2 separate regions of the Homo sapiens genome follow, and region 1 is linked to region 2. Evidence: fine-mapped expression QTL. A gene starts in region 2. The other region holds a variant in brackets. All regions are shown on one strand. Distances are between the middles of the regions.

Region 1 (5,380 bases), 23 kb before region 2:
ACCTCAGATGTTATGAAAAGAACTAAAGCAGTTTATTTGATTTGGCTGAACACATATGAATTACTTAAAAATGAAGCATAGCCATCCAAATAGCATGCTTTAAATGCCTGTCCAGTGATTTACAGCTAATTGCCAAATATTATTCCGTTGCTAAATCTTTACATTTGCTTTACTAAGGTTTGCTAAATTAGTTAAAATAAACTCAAGCATAGCATATTTCCAGAATATTTTTGATAAAAGATGTCACAAACATACATTTCCTACATATTTTAAAAATATTTAATAGGAAACTATCTTATGTCATATTTCCCAGGAAAAAGATAGAGAAACAGATTTGTGTATGGGAAGTTTATTGTGCAATGGTCTCAAGATAAAAACTGTGAGACGTTAAGGAACCAGGGTTGAGCAAAAAGAGTCGAATTGTGATGTAATTGCAAAAAAACATCTCAGCTAATCCCACTGGAGCTTGGAAGCTACGCTGGCCTTTCTGAGTTGTTCCAAATTAAGGCAAGGGGGCCTGATTTGTATATCACCACACTGACCAGTCATTGGATGTGGGCTGCACCTGGGGAGTGGTCATAATGCTGGGTGAAGAAATTCCTTTCACCTGAGGGCAATTCTTGGTGAGGGATTTGCTCTGAGCCATCAACAGGTAATAATTCTGACAGCTGGGGAAATGAATGCCTTGGTCCTGAAGCAGGTATCTGAGCAAGACACCACATTATCCATTCAGTGCACCCTTTGAACTGCTCAGATCCATTTGCTTTGTATAAAACAGTCACACCACCTGCTTCCTTTTGGTTGGTCTCTTTTCCAGTGAAATTTACAAAAGGAAAGTTGGTGGAATGAAGTATAATCCCCACTGCTGCACCTGATTGCAGAGTTGCAACTAATATTCAATTTTTGAATTCTCATTACTTTTGGCTGGTACCTCCACTAGACCGGGTGGCTTGCCCATAGGGGTGACCCAGGCCCTCATTACTGTGCCATCGAAGCCCTGCTCACTATGCCCTCCTTAGGGCCAATGATCTGCACTGTTCCTTCACTGTCAACTTTAGACAGGCGAACACTAAGAGATGCCCCAGTATATCACATGGAGCAAACCTATTCTCTCCTTCCCCATTGTGGAACAGCAGTCCTGCCTCCCACAGAACCTGGGGTTGTTTGAAATGCAGTCCCAAAGCATAGCTAGGTTCTCACATCTGTGGAAGCCAGCACTTAACAGTCCACACTTCAACCTCTTGCTCTGTGTCTCACAGCACGACTATTGATGTTTCAATGTGCACTAAATAAACTGACATTTCTTTCCAACTGTATCCTCTACATCTTTTCCACATCATGTCAACAACCAGAATACCAATACAATATTTTAGAAAGGTTGAGAAGTTCTCCAAAAGCAGAGAATATGTTCAGGAGGAATGTCCTCTCCCCTTTTTGCATGTGAGCTATACTATTTGAGGACAAAATTAGTGAAAGGAGTAGCTTAACTTTTAATGGATCAGGAGGGGAACTTCATTCCATGCTAATGACATACCACTTTCCCCATAATTAGGGAGGATGTTTATTCAGCCAGGATGCTGAAAAATACATTTTAAGATATAGAAGCAGCATCTGTGTTCATACCATATTGGTTGTTGAATATTTTGACTATTATACCTGCAGTTTGATAAATTGAAGGTAAGTTGTAAGTACATAAAGTTGATTAGCCTTTTCGGCACCAAAGGCAAAAAAAAAAAGAAAAAAATCTGGAAACTACTTAGAAATTATTTGACAGCATTGACCTCAAGTTCACCTCTGTTATGGACTTAAGCGCTTTGATACACAAGAGTATTTTATTTGTTTTAGAAGAGGCTGTCAGGTTATCCATTTCATGTTAAATCCAATATTCTTTGTTTAATTTCTGATTATTTTTGTTTGCATTTATCCCAAATATTGATTTAGAATAAAATCCACTCTTGACCCTGACTTTTCTCCACTACCTATTTTTCAGGAAAATTTTTGCAAATAGGCTGATTGAGTAGACTATATAGAAATGAACAAACATCTTTTTATCAGCTCTTTAAAAAATGTGTAGACACGCAGTAATACAAAAACATTGCTCCAATTAAGAAAGCAAAAGTACAAATATGCTTACATTGAAAAACATTTTTTGAGACAATGGTATATTTTAATAGTCTAGAGTGGCTCATTTATATTACTTGGGTTTATGAGTAGAATGAGAGGCATTGTTATGGAGGATGAGAGGAATAATGTAAAAATAAAGTGAACTAAGAGTGTATTTGCAACCTAATTTACTTTATTTAAAAAATTTTGTGACTCGCCCAATCTATGTGCTTCATAAGACAACTATCTGTTTCACTGCTTTCAACCGGGGTCTAAGAGCCTGGCACATAATAGATGCTCGATAACTGTGTGTCAAACGAATAAATGCACAAAGTGTTCATTGCTCACCTAATATGCCACAATAGCAAACAACTTCTCTCTCTCCTTCTTCCTTTCTTTTGTAAATTTTCTTTATCTTCTTCTCTCCCTCCTTAGCCCCCTCTTCTTCCTTCCCTCTCCTTATCTCTCTTTAGTCTCCTCTCTGTTCTTCCCTCCCTTCTGTTCTCCTTTCAAAGTAGATCACAGAAAGATGTTTAGGAGACATTCATTAGAGAATGTTCAGTAGCACAAAGACAGCAGAAAATGTATACAGTATCACATTTTCCATCCTTTCTTTTCTTTTTTAACTAAATCTTGAAATTCTGAAGTTATGTGACTTT[G/T]TATGTTTTAAAGGGGTGTTGTCGTGTTGCATGGGTGTCTTGTGTAACTAAAACAAACTCTCCACCCTGCCCTTGTCTTATTGTGCAGTTTCTTTCTTTTCATTTTTATTTTATTTACTTATTTTTTTGAGGCAGGGTCTCATCTCACTCTATTGCCCAGGCTGGAGTACAGTGGCATGATCTCGGCTCACTGCAGTCTCACCCTCCCTGGGCTCAAGCAATCCTCCCATCTCAGCCTCCTGAGTAGCTGGGACTACAGGCACACAACACCACACCCAACTTTTTTTTTTTTTTTTTCCATAGAGATGGGGTTTCACCATGTTGCCCAGGCTGGTCTTGAACTCCTGGACTCAAGCCATCTACTCACCTTGGCCTCCCGAAGTGCTGGGATTATGAGCATGTACCACCACACCCATCCCACAGTTTCTAAGAGAATCTGACCTTTTTCAGTTTCCAGAGACAGTCTTTGTGATTAATGATCTATCTGTGTTAGTCTAAGACTCCAAGACCAATCTCCCATTTCCAAAGACAGAACTGGGAGAAACTTCCCTTTCCTCTAAAGAGGTGATTCTGTATGTAAGCTAAGAGTAATCAAAGCAAGTTAGAATGCAATCTCCTTATATCCTTGTGAGAAGGATGGGAGAGGCTCCCCACACATGAAGGTAAACAAGAGGTTGCAGATTTTCACCATCGTTGACAGGGTGGGTGGTGTGCTGGCAGAGGGGAAGCAGTAGAGTTATTCAGGCTGAATGGACATCACTAAGGGAACCAGGTTCTTTCAGGTGCACAGGGGAAATCAGCAAGTTTCAGTGAATTCATGACAACTTGCCTCAGGCTGCTATGAAAGATGGCCACAAGGTCTCCTCTATTAGTGAGGCTAGCTAGGTGCAATCCTGACCTTTATTAAGAGTAACCAGACATTCGGGAGCTGGTTGCCTAAGTGCCCAGTAATCAGTTAAAAAGATGTCACAGAAAGGCAATTTCACTCTTACATTTCAAATATAATATTGATGCTAAGATTCAAACTGACTGGAAAAACAGAGATTCATCCAGCCGCAGAGGGCCTGATAGGGATAAAGGAGGCATGCTAAGGGATATAAATTACTACTTCTGTGAACTCCCAGAAAAGATTCTACCCTTGTTAATTTCATCCTGCCTCCTCCTCACTCTCAGATCCCCAAACCTCCACCCTTGTCTGCCTCTCTTCCCATCCATCCCTGCTGTGGGTTCTAATCCCAATCCTGCTGTTGTTTAGCTGGCTATATTATCTTGAACAAGTTATTTTTCTTTGAGTCTCAGCTTCTTCATCTATGCAATGGGGAATAGTAATATCCGGCCCATTGATATGAAATAATATGAGCAAAGGACTTCATGGAGGCAATCAATAAATGCTAGATACATCCCAAATCCCACTCTCTAAAGAATAGTCTTAGAAAACTAAAACTTTCAAATCACAAGCCTAACTCTATTTTCCAAATGTAAGAAATTTGCCTTATTTCTCAGTTGCCCTGATGCATTCCATCCATCATATAAAATAAATAATTTAAATGAAAAGTTAATTGAACGCTTAGAGCACTAAAAGTCATTCTAAGTTCTTCTTTCAGAGAATTAAAGATGCAAAAGGAAAAACTAATTTCAACATTATGCATTCAAAGAAATCTAAATTGTAACAAATTATTTATGTATATATTTAGTCTCTATTTCCTGTTCAAATACTTCAAATACATTTATAACCATTTGGAACTGTTATTACCAATATTTTAAGATGTTACACGATCCAATAGGAAATATTAACTGTTTTATTGTTAAAGAGTCATATTAAAATAATGCCATGACATATGTGTTATCAATTAGGCAATGAGCTACCAGTCAATATGTTTTGCCTTATAAAGAATTTTAGCCAAGATAAAGCTTGTTTGTTTGACTTAGAAAGCCAAAGTTGAACCTGTGTGATAACTCTTTGATCACATGTAATAACTGAAGCATAAGAAAATTGGTTTTTAGTATAATCACCAATCGTCCTCCCTTCCTCCCACTGAGAAAAAAATTCGGCCTTGTTTAAATACTCAGCTTAATTAAATTATGTATTTAATATATGATACATTTGTCTTGGCTTTGCATAGCACAAAAATGATAGATTAAATTTTTATGTGATAATTAAAGCCAAACTGTTATCAATAAGAATGTTAAAGCATTTAAAGATTATGAAAGTTTAATGTGTTCTGATGTGTTGCTTTTCAAAATCGTTGGGGCATTCCCGCTTTGAAAATTGTTGTACTTGATAATGGAGCCTCCTTGTGGGGAATCAGCAGTATTTCAGGCTTTCAAATTGCAGGTGAACTGCTGTTTGAATTTTCCCCCTTCACAACGGGAATAGATGTACTGTAGTAGTGCTATCAAGAAAATATGTACTTGTCGCCGGGTGCCGTGGCTCACGCCTGTAATCCCAGAACTTTGGGAGGCCGAGGCGGGTGGATCACGAGGTCAGAAGATCGGGACCATCCTGGCTAACACAATGAAACCCCATCTCTACTAAAAATACAAAAAATTAGCCGGGCGTGGTGGCGGGCGCCTGTAGTCCCAGCTACTGGGGGGGCTGAGGCAGGAGAATGGCGTGA
Region 2 (5,380 bases):
CCAACTTTATGCCTGTGTTTTAATACCGTTACATATAGTCCCACACCTATTCTCCCTTTAATAAATACATTATCTTCGACAAGTCATAGCTATAAAGCAACCATCAGCTATTTTAAAAAATACAAAATATACCAAATTTCTAAATGTAGGAGGGTATGATCTATTTGGAAAAGTCTACGCTAATTCCAAGAGGCTGCTTCTCAAAATAGTTTTAGAATTTCTCTTTGGAATCGTTTTCAGTTAGCTAAAAGCCACGTAGGAAACCCAACCTTGTTGTTTTATAGAGGTCTCATTTTAAAAAATAATAAAAATTTAAATAAAGTGGCATCACTCACCTTATTCAATCAACTTGACTTCAAATTACATTTTTGGCTATATCCAAAAATCAAATTTACCTCAAAAGACAAAAATTTTCTACAATGAAAATATTTTTTTAAATGTGAAAGCATTCTGAGAGCAGCATTCCAAAATTTATCAGAAATAAAAGTAACAGGTTAGAGTAAGGATAAAACTTCAAAGTTTTCCAAGGAAGATCATTTTGGAGGTATGACGCGGGTGGAAGGAATGTTAATTTTTACATATAATCTTGGAAAACATTTAAAAGACACATTTCTTTATGTTCATACTTCTATTTGTCCTTCAGATGGTTGAATTTTATCTAATAATAACCAGCTTTTCAAAATCCTAAAATGATTTTAAATGGGTTATGAATTAAAAATTTTCCACAAAGGTTATTAGGGGGTGGGGTGAGGAGGTGCACCAATGTGTGTAAGGATAAGACTTTTCCACTTGCAATCTAAGCACCCAAAGCATGTCAGAGGTGCAAGCTCTAGAAGCTAAAGTTTTGTTGGATGGTAGCGATTTAGAGGGGCTTTCAAGCAGCTCTGAAGGTCTCCATTCATTCCTGAAATTCTGTGTAGTTGAACAATACTGGTTGCATTCAATGTTTTGTTTGTTTCACAGTGTGGTCCTATAATATGAGCTTTTCAGTTATAGTGAATGTTATTTTTGTCATTTTTGGCACTTACAGTTCACAATGCTTGGTTATGTGGTTTAAGATTGTTTTAATTTTTGCATTTTACATTCCTTTTGGCACTTTTGAAGAAGGGACATTGTCTTTTATGTTGTTTGGGGAAAGTGGTAAGCCTCCCCCGTCTCTAGCTTTAAATGTTTGGCTTTATGAAATCCACAACTCTCCCCCAGAATCTTCCATCATTAAATAATGCGAGTGGAAATTTGCCTTCATAAGCTGGCCATTCCAACCGTCTTAGAGGCTGGTATCCCCAGCTTCGGATTTAGGCTGTTTGGTCACTGCCGTCACCGGCTCTGGTGGTCCCTCTCGGCAGAAAAGTACAACTGGATTTTTGCGGGCCCACATGGCCACGTCCCCTGCCACTCCGCTGGCCGGGTTGGAAGAGGACATCCTGTTGCAGGCCCCCAGCCGGTTGGCATAGCGGTTTCGAAGGCGACTGCGGCTTCTGGCTTGCAGACCCGGGCCCTGGCTGGGCAGGAAAGCGTCCACATTCCTAGTCCGGTAGCCCTCCTCGCGGTTGCGCCCTAGGAGCATCGAAATGTTGGGATTGCGGATGGCGTAGATGACAGGGTTGATGGCCCCATTGGCCCAGGTCAGCCAGACGGCCACCACGCTGAGGAGCGAGGGGGCCTGCATGGTCTGGGCCTGCCGGGCGGCGGCCAGCAGCACCAGGAAGCAGTAGGGCCCCCAGCAGCAGATGACGAAGACGATCATGATGAGGACGGTGGTGGCCGTGCGCACCTCGCTGAAGAAGCGCAGCACGCGCGCGTAGGTGTTCACCGGCCGCACGCGCACGTCCGACAGGCGCACCGTCTTGCAGATGTGGTAGTGGCAGAAGCACATGAGCAGGAAGGGCAGCAGGTAGCAGGCCACCACCAGCCCCACGCTGAAGGCCGCGCCCAGCTGCGCGGGGTCCGGGGAGGTCCGGTAGAGGCAGCCGTGGAAGCTCTGCGCCGCCGCGAGTTCCCGGGGCGCCCCGAGCAGCTCCCAGGGCAAGGAGAAGCCCAGGGCCGTCAGCCAGGCGCCCGCCAGCAGCTGCAGCGCGCGGCGGCGGCCGATCTTCTCCCGCGGCGGCCGCACGATAGCGCAGTAACGGTCCAACGAGATGAGCGCCACGCTGAGCGTGGACACGATGCCGAAGCACGAGCTGAAGAAGCGGCTGGCGGCGCAGAAGCCGCGCCAGGGCCCCGCGGCGGCGGCAGGCGCCGAACCCCCGGGCGGAGTGAAGAGGTCCAGGAAGGCGGCGGGCAGGCAGAGCAGCGCCGTGAGCAGATCCGATAGGGACAGCGACAGGATGAAGGCGTTGGTGACGGTGCGGAGCTGCCGGTGCTTCACAATCACCCCCATCACCGCGCAGTTGCCAAGGCTAGACAGCAGGAAGATGAGCAGGAGGACGAGCGCCTGGGCCGCCACTGCAGCTCCGTGCGACAGCAGCGGCGCCGCCTCCGGGCCTAGCGGCCGCCTCACCGCCGCCCCCGCCTCCCGCGCTGCCCCGGACCCGCCAAGGCCGCCGCCACCGGGAGCGGCAGCTGTGCCGCCTCCGCTTGCGTCGCTCAGGTTCCCCAGCGCCGCGGTCGCCACGGTGCTGAAGGAGAGCACGGCCGCCGTGGCCGCGGAGGAAGTCCCGCCAGGTGGGCCGGCCGCGGAGGGGGCGCCGGAGTGCTGGCTGCCCAGTAAGGCCATGCTCGCTGGTGGGCGGGGCGGCTGCGGCTCCTCCATGGGGCCCAGTGGCGGCCGCGGATCTCCTCATCCCGCACCGGGGGCGGCGGCCGCTAGGTCGGAGTGGTGGCTCGGGGCCGGGGGCTAGCGGCCGCCGCGGGGAGCTGGGCTCGGCCGGAGGGGTGGCGGTCGCTGGGGACCTGGCGGAGCCTTTGACGTGGGTTCCAGCGTTGCCGAGGGAACCGCGTGTTTACGCAGGAGCGCGGGGCGGGACGGCAGCCCAGTACCCGCTGCAAAGCCGACCCGCGACACCGCCACTCCGGAGGTTACCGGCCCGGGTGTTCGGGTTTCCGAGAGTGCCAGGTCGACCTCCTGAGGGACCAATGTCCGGCCAGATAAAGTGCCGACTGGCATGCAAACAAATGACCAGATTCAACGAAAGTTCACTCTTGCTCTCTTTTGTAGGGTACAAATGTTCTACAGGCAGGCCTTTTGGGGAGTGGTGGGGGGGGCACTCTGCTTCCTGTGGGTGCTTTTGGTATATACAGGTAGGAAAGGAATCTAGAAAGTGAAGTGAAAGAAAAATCCAGAAGTCTACATCCAGACATCTTAAACTTGAGAAGCAGACTAATTTAAACCAGTAATTCTCAAACTTGAGCTAACAGAATTCACATAGAGGGCGTGTTAAAATACAAGTGACGAGGTCTGAACCCCAGCGTTTCGAATATGTCTGGGGAAGTACCCAAGAATTTGTATCTCTAACGGGTTCGCGGGTGGTGATGATGATGCTGGTCCCAGGACCACACTTACAGAAGCACTGATGTCAAGAGTTTCATAAAATGCAGATTCCCAGGCTGACAGAATTACTAAGGATGGGCCCATGACTCTAAACCCCGTAGGTGATTCTGATACAGGTGCTCTGAGGAGCTAGGATAGTTCCTTTAGATGTTACTTCATTTCCAAGGGCCTGGACCTCAGGCCCCTACTGGCTGATAAATGGGGGGAGAGGGATTGGTGCCTTGCCCTGCTAGCAGCCTTCATCTGTTCTCAGGAATGGGGTATGTTTTGAGTCTAAGGTGCTGCCAGCCTGGCAATCACCACAGATGCAGCTCCAGGTACCTGGCTGGGAGATACGGGGAAAAGAAAGGCAGGGCTACCCAGGGAAGTTGCATCTCAAGTTTCTGGGCATGGCCTCTAATGGGGAAAAGTGTGATAAACCCTCAGGTTAACTAACCCTGGGCTCTTCGCTAAAGCAGTGGTTCACAGAGTATGGACATTGGACCAGCAGCATCAACATCCCCTGGAAACCTTGAGAAATACAAATTATCAGGCCTACAGTGCATAGGATACCCCTGATCTACTGAAACTCCTGTGGTGGGGCCCAGGCACCTATGTTTTAACAAGCCCTCCCAGTGATTCTGATGCACAAATTTGAGAAACACTGCTCTAAAGAATGACTAGTATATTTGTAGATCTTAGAATCAATGGTATTAGTATTGGAGTGCTTATTTCATTCAGAAAAAATATCCTACAGGAAATTTACAGTATAAATAGAAGAACGTTTAAGGTGGCAAACCAAAACTGGGTTTGTCAGCCTAAGCGTCATGGACTTTTGGGCCAGATAATTCTTTATTGCAGGGGCCATCTATACATTGTATGATGTTCAGCAGCATCCCTAGTTCCTACCTACGAGATGCCAGTAGCACCTCTCCCAGCTGTGACAACTAAAACTGTCTTCAGATATTGCCAAATATCCTCTTGGGAGCAGTCAATGCCAGCTTAATCTAGACTGATTTTGTCTTAATTTTGTCAATCAAAGCAAAAATATAATTATCATACATTAATTTATTTGGCAAACACAATCTTCTCAGATTGTGCTTAGTTTTAGGAAACAACATATAAGATAGGAAACCCAGCCCAAATAAGCTTAAGCCACCGGCCAACACAGTATATTACAGTGTGCTAAATATTGTCTTAAAAATATGTGAGTGAAATTATTTGTCTTCCTGACAAAGACTTTGTACAAGAGGTGACATTAGACTTTTTAAAAAAAGAAGAAAGGGAAAGAACATTTGATGAATGTGCAAAGTCTGGAGGTTAGTGTTGAAGTGAGCAGTGTCTGAATTCTAGGATATTGGAGATGGGGAGTGAAGAAGGAAATAAATGATCAAAGTTTATTGGGGCTACCTTATGATGGGCCTTGTAGGCCATGCTCTGGAGACTGAACTTCATCAGGGGAGGAGGGGCTAATAGCATAAGGGAGGGCCGTGAGCAAGTGCATGGTTCAGAAGGACCAGAAGGACTGCACTCTTCTGCTTCCTTCCTTCCTCATCTTTCTCAGTGTCCTCTCCTCTGCCAGTTCATCCTCTTCCACCTGCCTTTACATGCTGGAGTTCATCAAAGCCCTGTTCTCAGCTCCTCTGGACTCCCCCCTCGGCCCCATCTCACTCACATCCAGGACTTCAAAGATAATCTATATATTCATTACTCAAATTATGTCTGTGGCCCCAACCTACATGTCCTGCTACTTGGCATCTCTCTCCTTGATGTGCCAGTGGCACATCAAATGGGTGCATGATCTTCTTCCTACTTCCCCGGTAAAACTTGGTCTTCAATACTCTGTATCTCAGAATATGGTAGAACCATCCTTCTAGCTTTTAAGCCAAAAACTTAAGAGTTTTCCTTGAT

Direction of the effects. Positions count from the first base shown, and alleles are read on the strand shown. Sizes are in standard deviations (SD) of each study's normalised expression.
In carriers of allele T in region 1, the expression in thyroid of the gene that starts at base 2,906 in region 2 tends to be higher than with G alone (moderate effect, 0.53 SD a copy in GTEx).

Evidence for each region. PIP is the estimated chance that this variant, and not a neighbour inherited with it, causes the effect.
Region 1: its variant is fine-mapped to the expression of GPR135 in thyroid (GTEx, PIP 0.95).

The regions. Positions count from the first base shown.
Region 1 is chr14:59,439,347-59,444,726 of GRCh38, forward strand. No RefSeq gene overlaps it. Among named protein-coding and RNA genes, the nearest start is that of GPR135, 23 kb to the right of the region's middle. The variant G/T (reference allele first, on the strand shown) is at 2,763.
Region 2 is chr14:59,462,475-59,467,854 of GRCh38, forward strand. GPR135 (G protein-coupled receptor 135) reads right to left here and starts at 2,906. Exons shown (of 1, transcript NM_022571.6): 1 at 1-2,906. The coding sequence starts at 2,752. The coding sequence ends at 1,268. It also overlaps a transcript of L3HYPDH not described here. RefSeq lists a silencer at 2,437-2,976.